Linked DNA regions of Homo sapiens: region 2 is linked to region 1. Evidence: fine-mapped expression QTL. Tissue or cell type: whole blood. Region 1 holds a variant in brackets; the other region holds the start of a gene. All regions are shown on one strand. Distances are from middle to middle.

What was found. PIP is the estimated chance that this variant, and not a neighbour inherited with it, causes the effect.
Region 2: it holds the start of IRS1, and the variant in region 1 is fine-mapped to the expression of IRS1 in whole blood (INTERVAL, PIP 0.99). The same link has a PIP of 0.9 or more in monocytes, monocytes after Pam3CSK4 and monocytes after R848.

What each region holds. Positions count from the first base shown.
Region 1 is chr2:226,025,951-226,034,304 of GRCh38, forward strand. No RefSeq gene overlaps it. Among named protein-coding and RNA genes, the nearest start is that of MIR5702, 630 kb to the right of the region's middle. The variant G/C (reference allele first, on the strand shown) is at 4,656.
Region 2 is chr2:226,796,234-226,804,233 of GRCh38, forward strand. It overlaps IRS1 (insulin receptor substrate 1), which reads right to left and starts at 3,587. Exons shown (of 2, transcript NM_005544.3): 1 at 1-3,587. The coding sequence starts at 2,505. It also overlaps a transcript of RHBDD1 not described here. RefSeq lists an enhancer at 726-1,675 and silencers at 2,406-2,455, 3,446-3,865, 3,886-3,955, 4,916-5,125.

The sequences.
Region 1 (8,354 bases):
GAATTATTTAAATATCATAACATTAAAAATGACAAAAGTCAGCTTTAATAGAATTGACTTATTCCATCATTTTGTCTCCGTAATTCTAGAGGATATATATATTTATTTCTTCATCTTGTTTGGCTGTTTAGCAGTAGACATGCTGTTATTTTGGTAAGTCTTACTTATTTATAATTCTTGACACAGATGGAATCAAAATCTTGGTTTTAACTATTTCTAGACTTTCTGTGATAGGAACCAAGAATCACACAGCATAGTCTTTGTTACCATTCAGATAGACTGTTTGGATATATTCAAGTTATCTATTTCATTTCCACCATTTGTAACAGACACTATTAGGTATTATGACCCAAATGTTCAATTAGAAATGATCTTGTTTTTGAGGAATTTACAACCTACTGTGGGAGACAACAATGTAAGACAGTAATAGAGTCTTTGATAATGATAACAGAATAGAAAGTAATTCAAAATATGAGACTGTCAGAAGAGGGAAGGGCAAATTAGCAGAAGAAATTTACAGAAGAAAGAGCATTTGACTTGAATCTTGAAAAGTCAGAGCCATAATGAAGGGAACGGCATGTTAGTCACTAGAGAAAAACATGACAGTGGCTTCACAGCAGGTAAGTAAAATGGAGGGTGATGTGGTTTGGCTGTGTCCCCATCCAAATTTTATCTTGAATTGTAGTTCCATAATCCCCACATGTTATGGGAAGGACCAGGTGGAGATAATTGAATCATGGGGGTGGTTTCCCCCATCTTGTTCTTATGATAGTGAGTGAGTTATCATGAGATCTGATGGTTATATGAGGTCCTTCCCCCTTTGCTGAGCACTGGTTCTTCTCTCTTCTGCCACCATGTGAAGAAGGATGTGTTTGCTTCCCCTTCCACCATGATTGTAGGTTTCCTGCGGCCTACCCAGCCATGCTGAACTGTGAGTCAATAGTCAATTAATCCTCTTTTCTTTATAAATGCCCAAGTCTTGGGTATGCCTTTGCTATAATAGCAGTGTGAGAACAGACTAATACGGAGGGCTTGAGCCGTGACATGGCACTGACAAATTCGAGGAGAAAAAGGAGGTCAGCATAGATGTTGATGATATGGAAAAGTCAGCTGAGATAAAAATCACAAAGTTACTCAATGAGTGAAAAGAGTGTGGCTATTCAGATGTAGGTTTTCACGTACTGGTAGCATGAATAAATCTGCCAAGAAGCTTTGGAAAATACCAAGATGAGGAACAACAAAGACTGAGAAAATAAGTTAGGAGACCGTTTTTCATAAGGAGACTATGGAGGCCTAAAATAGGAGAGTAGTAGATAGAATGGGAAGGATAATATGAATTGAAAGACACTTCAGAAGCAAAATCAATAAGATGCATTCATCTATTTTATGTAAGGAGGGGAGAGAGAACATGCCAAAGAGAAACCAAAGAATACTACATGTTCTAAATAAACTGGAGAAGTTGGTTTCCAGTGCTACTCTATGAGCAAGTGCCCAATACTATAAATCTCAGAGCCCCCATGTATTAGTCTGTTCTCACGCTGCTAATAAAGGCCTACCTGAGACTGGGTAACTTATAACAGAAAGAGGTTTAATTGACTCACAGTTCCACATGGCTGGGGAGGCCTCACAATCATGTCAGAAGGCGAATGAGGAGCAAAGGTTCATCTTGCATGGTGGCAGACAAGAGAGCTAGTGCAGGGGAACTCCCCTTTATGAAACCATTAGCTCTCGTGAGACTTATTCACTACCTGGAGAACAGTATGGGGGAAACTGCCCCTATGATTCAGTTATCTCCACCTGGCCCCCCACTTGACACATGAGGATTGCAGAACTACAATTCAAGATGAGATTTGAATGGGGACACAGCCAAAACATATCACTCCATTCCTGAGACTATTCTTCAGAATGTCTGGGATGGTGCTAGGAATCTTCATTTTAAAAAAATTTCCCCAGGGAATAGTTTCTGTGGTCATTTCTGCCATAGGCCTGGTAGGTAGCAAGCCATGTTGTTAACACTTACCTATTCCATCAAATGACACCTTGTGTCTAGTTTTATAGAGAGGATGTGTGTCACTACTTTAGGAGAGAGAAGAATGATGCCAACATTTATAACTTTTGAGAGTGGCTATGTCATAGATTCCTTTGAAAAAATCAATCTTGAGTATATTCATGTTTCTAAAAACCAATGGAACCAGGAGTTCTGATGACTTTTATTTAATAAGCTGTTTTTCTTTTTTAAAAATAATTTAAACTTTTATTTTAGATTCAGGGGGTTCATGTGCAGGTTTTTTACATGGGTATATTGTGTGATGCTGAAGTTTGGGGTACAAATAATTCTGTCACCCAGGTAGTGAGCGTAGTATACAATAAGTAGTTTTTCAGCCCTTACCTCCCTGCCCCCATCTCCCTCATTTAGTAGTCTCGTGTCTATTGTTCCTATCCTTTTGTCCATATGTACCCAATGTTTAGCTCCCTCATGCAGTATTTGGTCTTCTATTTCTGTGGTTAATTCATTTAATAAGCCATTATTTTGATGCTTTTCGTTCCCTCCACAATCCACAGACATTTTTGGGGTTTATCTACAGGCAAAGTCTTAGTTTACTACAGGGGAAGATGTCCTCAGTGTTTTGGTAAAGAGAACAAATGAATGTAGTTCCCTACTGATTAATTGATACAGTGTACACTTATTTTAATGTAGAATGGTCTTAAAGAAATAGAAACAGTTTTAGACAGCTAATCTGCCATCTGGAATATAAGATATAAGTACATGTTCTCTATTAAATTTTAATCAGGACACAACCTGGAGTCTATAAAAGAAATTGCTGACAGATTTGGCTACACAAAAATTCAAATGTCCCTATGATGAAGTTTCCACATTCCAAGTTAAAAGATAAACAACAGGCTAAGAGAAACATTTACACTAAGCAAAAGAAACAAAGGTGTTCATTATAGGTAAAGAATTTCTTAGAATCATGAAGAAAAAGAAAGATCCAAAGAAAAAATGGGGCAAATACGTAAACAGGCAACTCAGAACAAACAAACAAACAACACAAATGTCCAGTGTAGGTAAGACTTGTTCAACCTCAGTAGTAATTTAAAAAGGCAAGTGAGAAAACAAGTTTTTTTTTTTTTACAAAATATTGACAAAACATTTTTTAATTGATAACAAATAGTGATTGAGAGACTGTGCAAAACAATAGTCTAGTCACAGACAACTTGGTGGAATATAAATCGTTTTTGCTCTTTGTGAGAGAACTTTGGTAGTATCCATAAATTTAAAATGCATATATCCTTTCACTTATGGATTTCAGTACAATCTAGCCTATAAAATTACTAGCATGTATGGTCAAAGATGTATACCTAAGAATGTCAGTTTCAGTATTATTTATAATAACAAAAAGCTGGAAATACCCTCATTATGTATCAATAATGTAATAATAAATCCTGAAACGTTATGCACCCGTCAAAAATGAGATAGATTTATAGGTCTTGATTTTTTAAAAAAGATCTCTTTGGTGTAGTAAGTGAACAAAATCACTTCACAGAATAAAACATATAGTATGAGTGAATTTGTAGGTTTCTAAAATTTATATGATTGCATATATACATCTATGCATATAAAAATATTTACAAGGGCTGGATGGATTTTATAAGGGTTGGATGAATACTATTGTGGGGAAGTATGAATTTACTTCTGGGGAAGGGAATCATTTGGGAAAGTGGGACTTCATAAAAGATTTTCATTGTTTAATGTGTATAGCCCTACATTATGTAAATATTCTACGATAAAAATATTTTCTTATATAATTGGAAAAATAAACAATAGATATTAAAAAACCTCCCTAATATTGGAGAAAACAGTAAAGTTAAAGACTTCTTAAGGGAAAAACAAAGCACACCTGTTCTAACTGTAAGAAAAGCTTCTGAACTTCCTGGCTATGCCTATCTTTGACAAAATGCTAGTGCTGTGTTAAAAGAATACATTAAAATTTAACACTTTATGATTAAATGTAAGATTTAGGGTGTGGAGATTTCAAACTGTGAATTTGCGTAAAATTTAGTTTGCTTGTTGCTGCTGTTTTTTTTTTCTTGTAAAGCTGTAGCTGATAAAAAGTCTTGTGAGAGAGAGAGGAGAGAGTAACTGATGCTTAGACAAAATAAAGTCATTATCATATGACAAGGTCTTTCTCATTCCATTCAGGCCCCTTAATAACTTTATTGCATCTCTAGGTATAAAGATCATATCTCACAAGGGAAGAAACTGCATTATATATGCTGGGCAGCTGCCTACCTACCATTCTCATGCATTTGTTGCGAGAGCAACATCTGTGTTCTTTCTACATGTAGAGGGCTCCGCTGCCATCCTTCCCAAAACTTCTGGAGGTCACCGTTTTTACAACAGGATATCTCTCGCACCAGTGACCTGCATTTTAACACTTTGCCCTGTTATCTATAGAAAGAGAGGTTCTTTCCAAATCCCAGGAGTGCGTTAAACGTTATTTCTGAGGTAAATCAGACTCACACAAAGTTAGCGTTCCCCAAAGGGGGGGGGGGGGTGGTGCCTCAGTATAAAAATGTCCCCCAGTGGATAATTCATCATGTGATATTTCAAGCACTGAGAAAGCAGAAGTAACAACATTTGGAAAGAAAGGGTG[G/C]AATTTCCTTCCTTTACATGTGTGAGGAGCGCGCGCCTGTGTGTGGGGGGTGGGGTGGGGGGCTATGGGAAGGAGTGGATCTTGTAGTGGACAGCATTCTTTGAATATAAATATACATGTAAACATATAAATATATAAATATATATGCGCGCATTTTTCTCCTGCATAAAGGAGTCAGGCCGATCTCTTTCTATTTGATCTTAATCCCTCTCCCCCGCCAGCGTGGCCCAGGAGCACCCCTCTCTTTCTAATAAACGGCTGGCAGAGCAAGCCGTTCACGCAGTCCCCTTTGATCACCTTGGAGCTGTCAGCCCTTGCTGCTGTTTTCCTCCCAGCTCTTGTTCCTGCCTAAAAGTGGAAGTAATACCCACTGAAAGAAATACCCCAGGTGTCCTGCAAAGCATTAATCTATTTCTTCTTTTTCTTCTTTTTTCCTGAGGCCCACCCTCCCAGCTTGAACAAATCCCCCTCTTCCTCCCTCCTCCCCTCTCTGCAGAATCCCAGTTCCTTTTGAGACACCCTCCACTGTGCTGGCGTGACCCCCTGGGCCCTCGCTGTCTGAGAAGCTACCACCCGGCCAGACAGGGGAGGCTCCGCCCTGCCCCTGCACCCGCCGCCCTCTCCCCGGCCGCACGGGAGCCCGGATCCCGCAGGCATCTGTGTTCGCAGGTTCTGCCGTTTGCTTTCGGGAAGGCGAGCATTGTTTTCCTCTGGATGCAAGCTTTTGCTGACCCACACCCCCCTTCCCCAATGCCTCCGCTTCCCTTCCCCCTTCGGGGACTTGGGATTGCCCTGCAGACTCCCTGGACTTGAGCGTTTTGGTCTCTGGCTGCAGTGTTTGTGAGAGAGGCTGCGGATGCGACCCAGCTCCGGCTCAGCTGCGCGCGTTTGCAAATGCGGCTGCGTCCAGACAGGGCATGGAACACATTTCCAAGCTCACGTCCCCGTTTCTTGTTTACAGCTGAGATTATAAGCAATCTATGTGCCCTCTTATCATCGTGTCAGGCAATGATATATAGTTTGTAAATATTATTTAAAGGAAATGATTTGCAAAGGCAAACAATTTTAAGCAAAGTATATGGACCATGAGGTTTGTCTTTAATGTACTTACCAGAAGGACAGAGAAGGGGGCTGGGAGACCGGAAAATTATGGGGTGAGGTGTGTGGGTGGGGGAAAAGGTGGCGGGGATGACTCAAAGGATTCTGGTGATTCGATGACAGTGACATAACTAATTAAATGTAATGTTGCTTAAAAGCCTTTGCTCTCTTTCTGAAATTGCTCGAAAGTATGCATTATTAAAGAAAAAAAGATAATGTAGAAGGAGGGGGACTTAGAATGACTGAATACAACTCATTGTGCTGGCTCAAAAATGTCAAACTGCAGTGGAAAGAAATACAGCATTACAGGCTGGTGCGCTGAGGCCCCAGCTAGGGAAGGGGGAACTGTTAAGTGGAAAATTCCTGCAGAGGACTCGTTTCCATTTCCAATGGGAAGAAAGAGAGTGTTGTTGGAAGCTGGCAGATCTTTGGAAAATACAGGGGAGCACAGGGAAAATGACAAAAATGATCTCATTGAACTCTGAGAAATCTAGCAAACAAATAGCTTTAGCCAACCTACCACATTCTTATAGTGCCTGTGCCTGCATACCAAGACTGAGAAAGGATGAAATCTCAGCTCTCCCTCTCTCTGGTCCCCCTTGTCTCCTGAGAGGAAAGGAATGATGCTTGAGACACTGGCAGCAGCAGAGGATCATGACTGTAGAAATGTGTCTATGAGTACATGTGTGCTCCTCAAATAGACTTGTGTGCTTAGGGAGATACTTACTTTGCATCCTGAATACTAAAATGATGGTGCAGCTGTATTTGTTGAACACTAGAGGATTTCAGTTTAAGGAGCATTTTTCTGTCCGAAAGAACCACAAATCCTAACAGGAGTCACCAGGTTTTGCCACCCAGGGGTGGTCTCTGTTAGTGGGTTTTCTTCTAAGGATAGCCTGAATTGCATCACGAGCAGCTAGGTGATGGAGCAGGGCGAGAGCAAGCACATCTCAGAAGCTGTGTGCAGGTGTATTCGTATAACCGCGACCAGGAATTTTAGAATTATCATTACATGTTCCAGTGGAGAAAAACAGAGACTAATAAGAAGCCACGTTTTTTCTTATTCTGTAAAGCTTCTGTCAAGAAGAAAGAAAAATGCCAGGCAGTGAATGCACTGCATGTACACAAATGAAGTTCAAACGATCTTCATTTGCTATGCTGATTTTTTCTCTATCAGATCCACAGCACACTGACAAGCTAAAGAAAACTTGTTTTACATTTATGGCTAGGATATGTGTGTATGTGTGTTGAGTAACACTTTTAAATATATTCCTTTCCATAGTAGTCTGATAATTTAATAACTGGTGAATTATATTGAAAACACTTTATTAAAACTATTTGACATTTCAAGTAAACTTTATTAAAAACTACAGATGACTGAATTTACGTGGTCAATATTCTACCTACTGACAAATCCAAAGCATAGATCAGCATATCTTGTATCAGTCCAATGTCTCCTCCAAAAATTTAATTTTATTTGGATATGTAAATTCAATGCTATGATGGACCTTGGGACTTGTAAATTTTACATAGAAAACAATATTTGGTTCAGACCAATTCTTAAGTTATGTCCAATTGCCAAGGCAATGCCCATAGTAATTGAAGAAATATACTGTGAGTTACTCATTATATATTTAAGATATAAATGTTCTTGTCTGTTCTTACAAACAGCTTACTTACATAGAGTTTTAATGAGATATAAGTCATATCCCATAACATTCACTTACTTTAAGTGTTCAATTCAATGGTTCATATATTATTTACGTTATGCCACCACTACTACAGTTTCATTTTAAGATGTTTTCATCACTCTATAAAGAAAGATTGTGATTATTTATGATCACTATCCATTCCTGCCCCAGCCCTAAGTAATGTTTTTGAGGTCCGTCCATGTTGTTCCTTTTAATTGCCAAATAGTTTTCCATTGTATAGCTATACCATACTTTATTTATCGATTCATCAGTTGACGAACATCAGTTGACGAACAGAAATGTTTCCATTTCTGGGCGTGGTGATTAATGCTGCAATGAACATTCACATATAAGTCATTGTGCAGACATGTTCTCATTTATTTTTGGTAGATACCTAACTAAGTGTGGAATTGCTATATCATATGGTATGCTTACATTTTTCAGAAACTGCCAAATTGTTTTCCAAAGTGGCTGTACAATTTTACATTCTTACCAAAAGCATATGAAAGTTATAATTGCTCCAAACAGTAACACTTGTTATTGTCTGTCTTTTTGATTATAGCCATTCTGGTGAGTGAGAAATAATATCACATTGTGGTATTGATTTGCATTTTGTTATGTTCAATCACGTGCATCTTTACCTGTGTTTATTAATCATTTGTGTATCTTCTAAGGAGAAATATCTAAATATTCAAAACCTTCCACCATTTTTTTAGTTGTGTTATTTGGTTTTTATTGCTCACCTGTTAGAATCCTTTTTATATTCTGGGCACAAATCCTGTACTGGATATATGATTTATGAATGTTTTCTCTCAGTTTGTGGGTTAGTTTGTTATTTTCTTGATGGTGTCTTTCAAAGCAGCAAAGTTTTTATTTTAACTAAGTTTAATTTATCAATTATTTTTCTTTT
Region 2 (8,000 bases), 770 kb after region 1:
CTGATGGTGGGGATGTGGAAGGCTGGGCTCCAGCCTAGCCCCGCAGTATCCCCCACCCAGGCTGTCGCTGCTGGTGGAAGAGGAAGAATCATCTGCTGTTGCAGCATAGAGAAGGCGACCAGAGCTAGTGGAAAGGCGGAGGTGCTGATGCCGGGCACCCTCCTCCGGCTCCCCGGGGCGCTGGGTGTGCTTAAAGGATCTTGGCAATGAGTAGTAGGAGAGGACTGGCTTGTGCTGGGGGTCCTCAGGGCCGTAGTAGCAGTCGGAGGGGCTGCTGGTGTTGGAGTCCCCCACTGGTGACATGTTCATGTAGTCACCTGTGCAAGGTAAGAGCTTACCACCGCTGCTCTCCACTGGGGGTTTGGGGTGAGGCAAGACATGAGAGTGGTGGCCCCCTACCCCGTTTGTCCACAGCTTTCCATAGCTGGTCCCGGAAGGGACGGCGTTGCTGCTGCTGCTGCTGCTGCTGGGGCCACCTCCAATGTCAGGAGAGCAGCCACCGCTGGGGGACATCATCATGTAGCCATTGGGGTCCACTCTCTGGGGATGGCGTCTGATGGGATTGATGATCTGCTGTGGGGCAGATACGCTCTTGGGGCTCATGGGCATATAGTCTCCACTGCCCTTTCGGCCACTGGGCACTGGGGCCACCCCTGGGGACATGGGCATGTAGCCATCATCCGTGTGGAGGGTGGAGCTGTCTGGGCGGTGGTGCCCCCCCCGACGCTCCAAGGGGTGCATTTCCAGACCCTCCTCTGGGTAGGAGCGGGTGGGCACGAAGGCGGAGTGCCTGTGTCCCGGCAGTCGGCCTCCACTGCCACCTCCTGGTGGGTAGGCAGGCATCATCTCTGTGTACTCCTCAATGGAAGCCACTGAGGACTGGGACGGGGTCTTCTGGTGGGTAATGGTAGGGGATGTGCCTGCCGAGTGAGTTCTCTTTCGGAACCGATTATCCAGATCTGCAGCACTGGCTGCTTCATCCCCAGCCAAGGCTGGACTCGTGCCCAAGCCTGTTCCTGGGGTGCAGCGGTGGCCATTGCCACCCCGAGACAAAATGTAGTGACCGTTGGGGGCGGTCAGGGTGGAGGGCCCCTTGCCACCCATGCAGATATAGTTGCTTAGCTCCTCCTCACCGCGGGCTGGTGGGGTGTGGCCCAGGGAATCCGGAGTGACACTGCGGAAGGAACTCCGGAAATCGCAGGGACTGGAGCCATACTCATCCGAGGAGATGAAACCGCCATCGCTGGGGGAACCAGACACCGAAGCACTAGATCGCCGTGGGAAGAGACAATCCGAGGTGGAGCCATGGCCACTGGTGCTACTGGACGACAGACTGACCGGGCTGGTGGCCGAAGGCGAGCAGCGGGAAGCCGGCATGGGGATGGAGCGGCTGTGGTTGAGCGGGGGGTGCAGCCGGGCGCTGCCCCGATGCCGGTGGGCGTGGGTTCTGTTGGTGCTGGGACTCACAGGGCTGCCGTCCACCGAGGCTGGGCGGGACATGGTGCCTTCGCCGTCACTGGAGGCGCGGACACGGAAGGAGCCTGGCTTCCCGCCCACCATGCTGGCCGGGGAGGTGGCGGTGATGCTCTCAGTGCGTGATCGGCGGGTCAGCCCCACCTGGCTGGGCGGGGGATTGTTGAGATGGTGCCGGCGCAGGGGGACGCTGATGGGGTTAGAGCAGTTGGACGAGGACTGGCTCTTGCTGCGAGGGCGGAACTCATCACTCATGGCCCGCATGGCCTCCAGGATGGTCTCGTGCATGTTCTGGGCCACCACAGAGTCATCCACCTGCATCCAGAACTCCCCGGGCCCCGTCACGGCAGAACGGCCCACCTCGATGAAGAAGAAGTTTTCCGAGTGGCCACAGCGCCTGATGTTCATCAGCTGCAGCACCACGGCCGCTGCCTCCGAGTTCAGCTTCACGAAGCTGATGGTCTTGCTGGTCAGGCAAAGGCGGTAGATACCAATCAGGTTCTTTGTCTGACCCAGGCCCTTGGGCTTCAGGATCACTTGCCAGACCTCTTTGAATGCGGGTCCTGGGGGCACGTCACCGTAGCTCAAGTCCTCCCCAGCCTCACCAAGGCCGGAGCTGCCGCTGCAGCTGCCCCCACCACCTCCCGCCCCGAGGGCCGCAGCTCCGTCGTGGTGGCCCTTAGCACGGTTGTGCAGCTGTAGGAGAGCCTGGTACCAGCTGTCTTGCTCGGCCTCGCTGTCCGCCGCGATGGCAAAGTGCTCGTCCCGGGTGTAGAGAGCCACCAGGTGCTTGTTCTTGGAGTCAGCCCGCTTGTTGATGTTGAAGCAGCTCTCAAGGGGGATCGAGCGTTTGGGGGCGCTCGACTTGTGCCGCCACTTCTTCTCGTTCTCGTAGTACTCGAGGCGCGCCGGGCCCCCAGCCTCGCTGGCCGCGCGCAGTACGAAGAAGCGTTTGTGCATGCTCTTGGGTTTGCGCAGGTAGCCCACCTTGCGCACGTCCGAGAAGCCATCGCTCTCCGGAGGGCTCGCCATGCTGCCACCGCCACCACCAACGCTGAGCAGAGGGAGGCTCCGAAAAACAACCGGGTGGGGGGCGGAGGCTCCTCGCCGCGGCCCGGCACATGCAAACAGGGCTGGAGGCAGCAGAAACCCCGACTCTGAAATCCACGCCGCCCCCCGCGCCGGGGAGGGGCAGCTGAAGGAGGACGCAGCTGCTGAGCCCAGGAGAGAGCCCGACCGGAGTTTTCGGGCGCTTCACGCCCGGCGGGGAGGCAGTGCGTCCGGGGTGAGGGCAGCCCCGATCCTCCGAGAGCCAAGTCTCCTCTCAGCCGCCGCCGCCACCAGGAAGGAGCGAAGATGCATCTCTCGTCGCCCCGGCTGGAGTCCGGCACAGGGAGGCGACAGTCGGGGGTCCCTGCGGTGCCCCTCCAGGAGCGCGCGCGCGCGCGCGCCTTCCCTCCTGAGTTCCCCTCTGGAAGCAGCGATTCCCGAGGCAAATTAAATATCCTTGGGCAGGGGGAGGCGGGTTGCCAAGTCCCAACGTTGCACGGGGTTCTCCCTCCTCCTTCGCCTCCTCCCACCCCCCAACCGTCCCAGCCGCCACCAGCCGCCCAAATACCAGCTCAGTCGCAGAGACCGCGGCGCTGCGGCTGTTGCTGTTGCTGCTGCTGCTGCTGCTGCTGCTGCCGCCGCCCGCGGGCGCGTCCTCTGCAGCCCCCATCCGGGCCCATCTCGGCGGGTGGAGAAAGTGGCTTTTCCATGCGAAACGATACCGGGCAGCCACTGCAGCTGGGGACCGGCCGGAGGGACAGACTCATCCCTGCCCCTCGCTCCAGGCGGCTGGGGAGGAGGGGAGGGGACAAGGGCGAGAGGGGATGGGGGAGGTTTGGGAAGGGTTCGGGGAAGACGCCTGTTCCTCGGGAGGCGCTGCCGCTGCAGTTACTTCTCCCCTCCTCCCTCCTCCTCCTCCTCCTCGGAGAGTTGCCGAGAGCCCCAACCAAAACAAGCGGCGGCGTCTGGCTCTGCGCGCCGGCCCCCTCCGACCGCGCCGCCGTCTCACTCGGAGGAGAAAAACACGTGACGGAGCCTCCGCGCTCGGCAGCCGGGCAGCCGCCGCCGGGAGGCTCCCGCCCGGGTCTCTACATTCCGGGCCGAGCCCGCCCCGCGCCCGCCCCTCTCCGCCCCCCAGCCGTGCTGCAGCGGCGCCCGCGCCGACCCCGGCGCAGCGCTAGGACAGCGCCCCTGCGCGGCCGCCAGCTCCGGCGCAGCGCCTCCCTACACGCGCGCCAACCGGGGCGCCCCCGGCCCGCAGGAATCCCCGCGGCGGGCGCAGGCGGGGGTGTTTGGGTGGCTACCCGAAAGCACGAGGGGAGTCTGGGAAAACGGGAGGGGGCGAGCTCGGGAAGACGCAGGAGTGAGGGTGGGGGGCCACGGGGGGGCACTGCGGCTACAGAGCCCCGAGTGGGAGGCCGGGGGGAGGCGGGGGCGCCGGAGCTGGGCTGCCTCTTACCTATCAGGTAAGACTGACCCACGGGAGGGAGGTTTCTAGTCAAGGCTGTTTCCCCCAGGAAATTTAAAAGCTAGATTTCGGCTTCAGGGCGATAGGCCATGGTGAGGGGATCTGTATTTTTTAAGGTTTTTCTAAAGGACTTCTGGGCCAGCCTTCCACCTTGGGATCCCCAGATTTGCTGCCGTGAGGTACCTGGAAGGAACAGAGGGACGCCCAAGGGCAGTGACTGGGGGCAGTTATGGTCACTACAAAAGGAGAACAGGGATCCCCAGGAAGTGTCTCACGTCCGGCGCTGTGGAATTAGTTGCTGATCAAGTAGGGAGAAAATGTAAATATCACCTTTTCTCCTGCTCCCCTTGCCCATCCGTGTGACGGGGGGACTCACACCTAAGGCTGAGGGCATGGGGGAGGGGAAATGAGAGGTCCCTTATCATATTCCGAAGTCTATCCGTGACTTTAAAAAGCTGTTAGGGACCTTCAGAGGGTTCATAAGGCCAAAACCCTACTGTGCAAATATTGGCTGAAATGTTTGTTTCACACACAGCTCCCACACCCATTGAACCACCCTATAAGTTTTTAACCTTGACCACAAGGATAACAGGGAGAAAACAAGGATGGTGCCAGCTCAACTGTACAGGAAAATGGTTACTTCATGAGTGGACCAGATCAGCAGCCTGGGTCTACTTGAAGCGCCCCTTTCAGGGTCACCTTGCGGTATCAGTCTCCCCACAAACAAACGCTCCCCAGAGTTTTTTTATTTTTTAAGCCGACCTATAAACAAGCAGTTTGTCCCTGCTTGCTCGCCTGGCACTAAGGACCCACAGAGATGTCACTCGGTTTAATGCTGTCTCATTTTGATGCCTGGCCCGTTTGGGGTTGCCGCCCCTTTACTACGCCGGGACCCTCCTCGGCCTCAGGCTCCCAGGCACTGCAGGATGCTGGCTGGGCACTCAGCAGTCGAGGCGCTGGGCATGCTCAGTGGCTGGGACCCGGCGGGCCGCGGGGGAGCGCGCCTCGGCCCAATGCGGCTGAGGGGCGGAGCGAGTTTCCCGGGGAGGCCTGCTGATTGGTGGGATGGCCTGTTTTTCAAGCCTTGCACTGCAGAGGGAAGGTGGGGGTAGAAGGGTTGAGGGTACCAAGGTAGGTTGCAAAGCGTAGTAAAAAAAGAAAAAGAAGATGATGATGATGAAGGAGAAAAAGAACCATAGGCGCCATTCAGGGGTGTGCGATACGTAAATTAGGGGGATTGGGCATCTGCAGAGGGGCTCCTCCCCACCCAAGCCTGGGAGCCTCTCGTTTCTCCTCTCCCCTTCCTGTTCCCGGTCGTCATGCAGCCTCATCTAAACCTGGTTAATCTATAATTTGAGTACACATGTTGAATTGAAAGCCCTCCCTTCTTTTCCTCTGACAGCTTGGTGATGTGGGCACACGTGCCCACTACAGCAAGGCTATTAATAGCAGATATTTGGAAATGGAAGCGAGGCGGCACTCACAGTGACCGAAATTCTGGGGGTATAGAGTGCCTTACAGGGGGTAGGGCAGGGAGGTGCAGAATAAAGAAGCCTGAAGTTGGTGGAAAAGTGTAACTGTGTGCCTGGTTTTACCCTAGACAAGAAAAAAGAGAGATTATAAAAGGGTTGTTTACTAGTAACAATGTAATCCAGATAAGGCCAAAGGGCTTTTCACAGGTTTGATGTTTAGCGCTGGGATGGGGGTAGTGGAGTAATTAACATTTTGTAAGACAACAAATCAAATCCATGGACATTTACTTTTCAAATGGCCCTGTCCCTACCTCCGTCCCTCCACCCCCCACCCCCCAAAAAAAGCTAAATAAAGGTACTGTACCTCTATGGGGGAAAAATACTCTTTTCTGGAAGGAGGGGAGGGTTGGAAAATTTATTTGCACGTACCTCACAATTATCTTCATAGGAAGGATTTTGATCATAAAAAGCTAATTATGATAATAAACCTTTTAAAAAATATATCTCTCAGTGTTAAAGCATTTCTGCTTTAAAAAACACAATTTCAGTTGCTAAATATTCGATAAAAATTATGAAATAAGCCTCACTGCTGTGACAAATTATGTTCAGACCAATGGGTTTCCTATGGAAGATAATCACTGATCATAGGATATTAGTGCCATTTTTTCTACTTGCTGATGTTTTACTACCAATTTAAAGGTGGTTAATATTTGTTATAATTATACTACAGTAAATTCAATTGTTCTCTACAATTGTTTTATTAATGGGCTAACTGGAAATTCATTTACATTTGGTTCATGTAATATATAGAATAGAAAGAGACGCGTTTGTGGGAACTCACTGAAGTAATGCTGAGCAGGTATGGGTATTATTCTGTCACCTAAGCTAAATTAGTCTTTTGGTGTATTGTAATGAAATACACTGTATGAAAAATTTACTCCCCACTGAAAATTCACGGAACAGAAGAACAAGCTATTACCAAAATCTGTTGCTCAATGCTGCCATCTATAGGAGAGTTAGAGCCGATTTGTGTAATATGCTAAGGTTCATTTTAAAAGAGGGCTAAAATAGTGATTTCATCACAACATTGCAACAGCTACGTTGATGTCACTAATACAGTCCTAATTCAAGGAGTTAAGGGTTTACATGCTATGGACGCACTTTGGGGCAATAGGTCTACAACTAGCTTTAAAATTGAGTTATTGGTTTATGTATGATACTATCAGGAAAATAATGCAAAATTTATAGATTATTACATATATCTGTAAAGTGCTTGAGTTGGGTGGATGTAAAACTAAACATTTCAAAATTATAAAACACTTTTTGTATCAAAACATATGTTTTCCTTAAGATGTATGGGTCATAACTGGAGGAGCTATTTAAATACTGGCGTCTCTTAGAATTAATTTTGGCAATTTAGAACAGTGCTTGAAGGACAATTGAATGTGGATTTTCTCACTTTAAGATCTGTTTTTATTTTAAGATGGCTCAATAGTAATAAGCATTTGAATGCTTACTCTGCAAGGCAATATGAAATAGATAAAAAGACAGCTTCTTACAGCTTTGATGGGGTAATAAGAGAGTACAAAATAACAATAGTTGATGACTAAAATGTGTGTGTGTGTGTGTGTGTGTGTGAGAGAGAGAGAGAGAGATGTCAAATAACAAGTGGTATTTACTTTCATGATGGATGAAATAACTACTTAATTTTTACAGAAGAGAGGAGCCTTAAGCTTGAACTTGAAATGGGCTATAACTCAGATAAATGGCAATTATTTTTTCCCACTCAAGTTTTTTGGAACACCTACTTGTGTTAGGCACTAGGCTGGACACTGAGGATTTAGATATCAAAGACATGCTGCCCACAGGAAACTTACATCGAAAATGGCAGATGAACACAATTGCAGAGCACTATGATCTCTTTTGTGGAAAAAATAGGCACAGGGCAAATGAGATCACATAACAACCAACTGCCTTCTGACATAAACATTATCAGTTACAGACAGTGCAATTTGGGAATCTGAAAGGTGCCTCTTCCCTTAAAAACTTTGTTTTCTCATGTAATTAAAATCTTTCATCTGTTTTATTTAAAAATATATAAAATAGGCCAATTAAAAGAGAGCTGAAAAGTCACACTTGGCTTGTAAATCGGCTAGATCAGGGCTTCTCAAACCCGAGGATCTTGTTATAATGCAGGTTCTGGTTAAATGCAGAAGGTCAAGGGCAGTCTGAGGCAGTGCATTTTTAACATACTCTAGGTGATGCTGATTCTGCTGGGTAAGTAGCATAGTTCTAATGACTGATGATTAATTGAAAGACAATAATTTGGTGCTGTGACATGCAAGCAAGGCACTTATACTTTAGTATTATATACATATACAGAGAGAACAACAGCAAGAAAAATTCTACTTAACTGAGGCTTCATTGTATTTGGGCTTCTCTCTTTTCAATCACAGGCATCAAATCTTTCTGGTAAGCATGAAGAGTTATTATCAAACAGTTGTGTTAGTGTTTTCCAAGGTGTGATTGAAAATGGA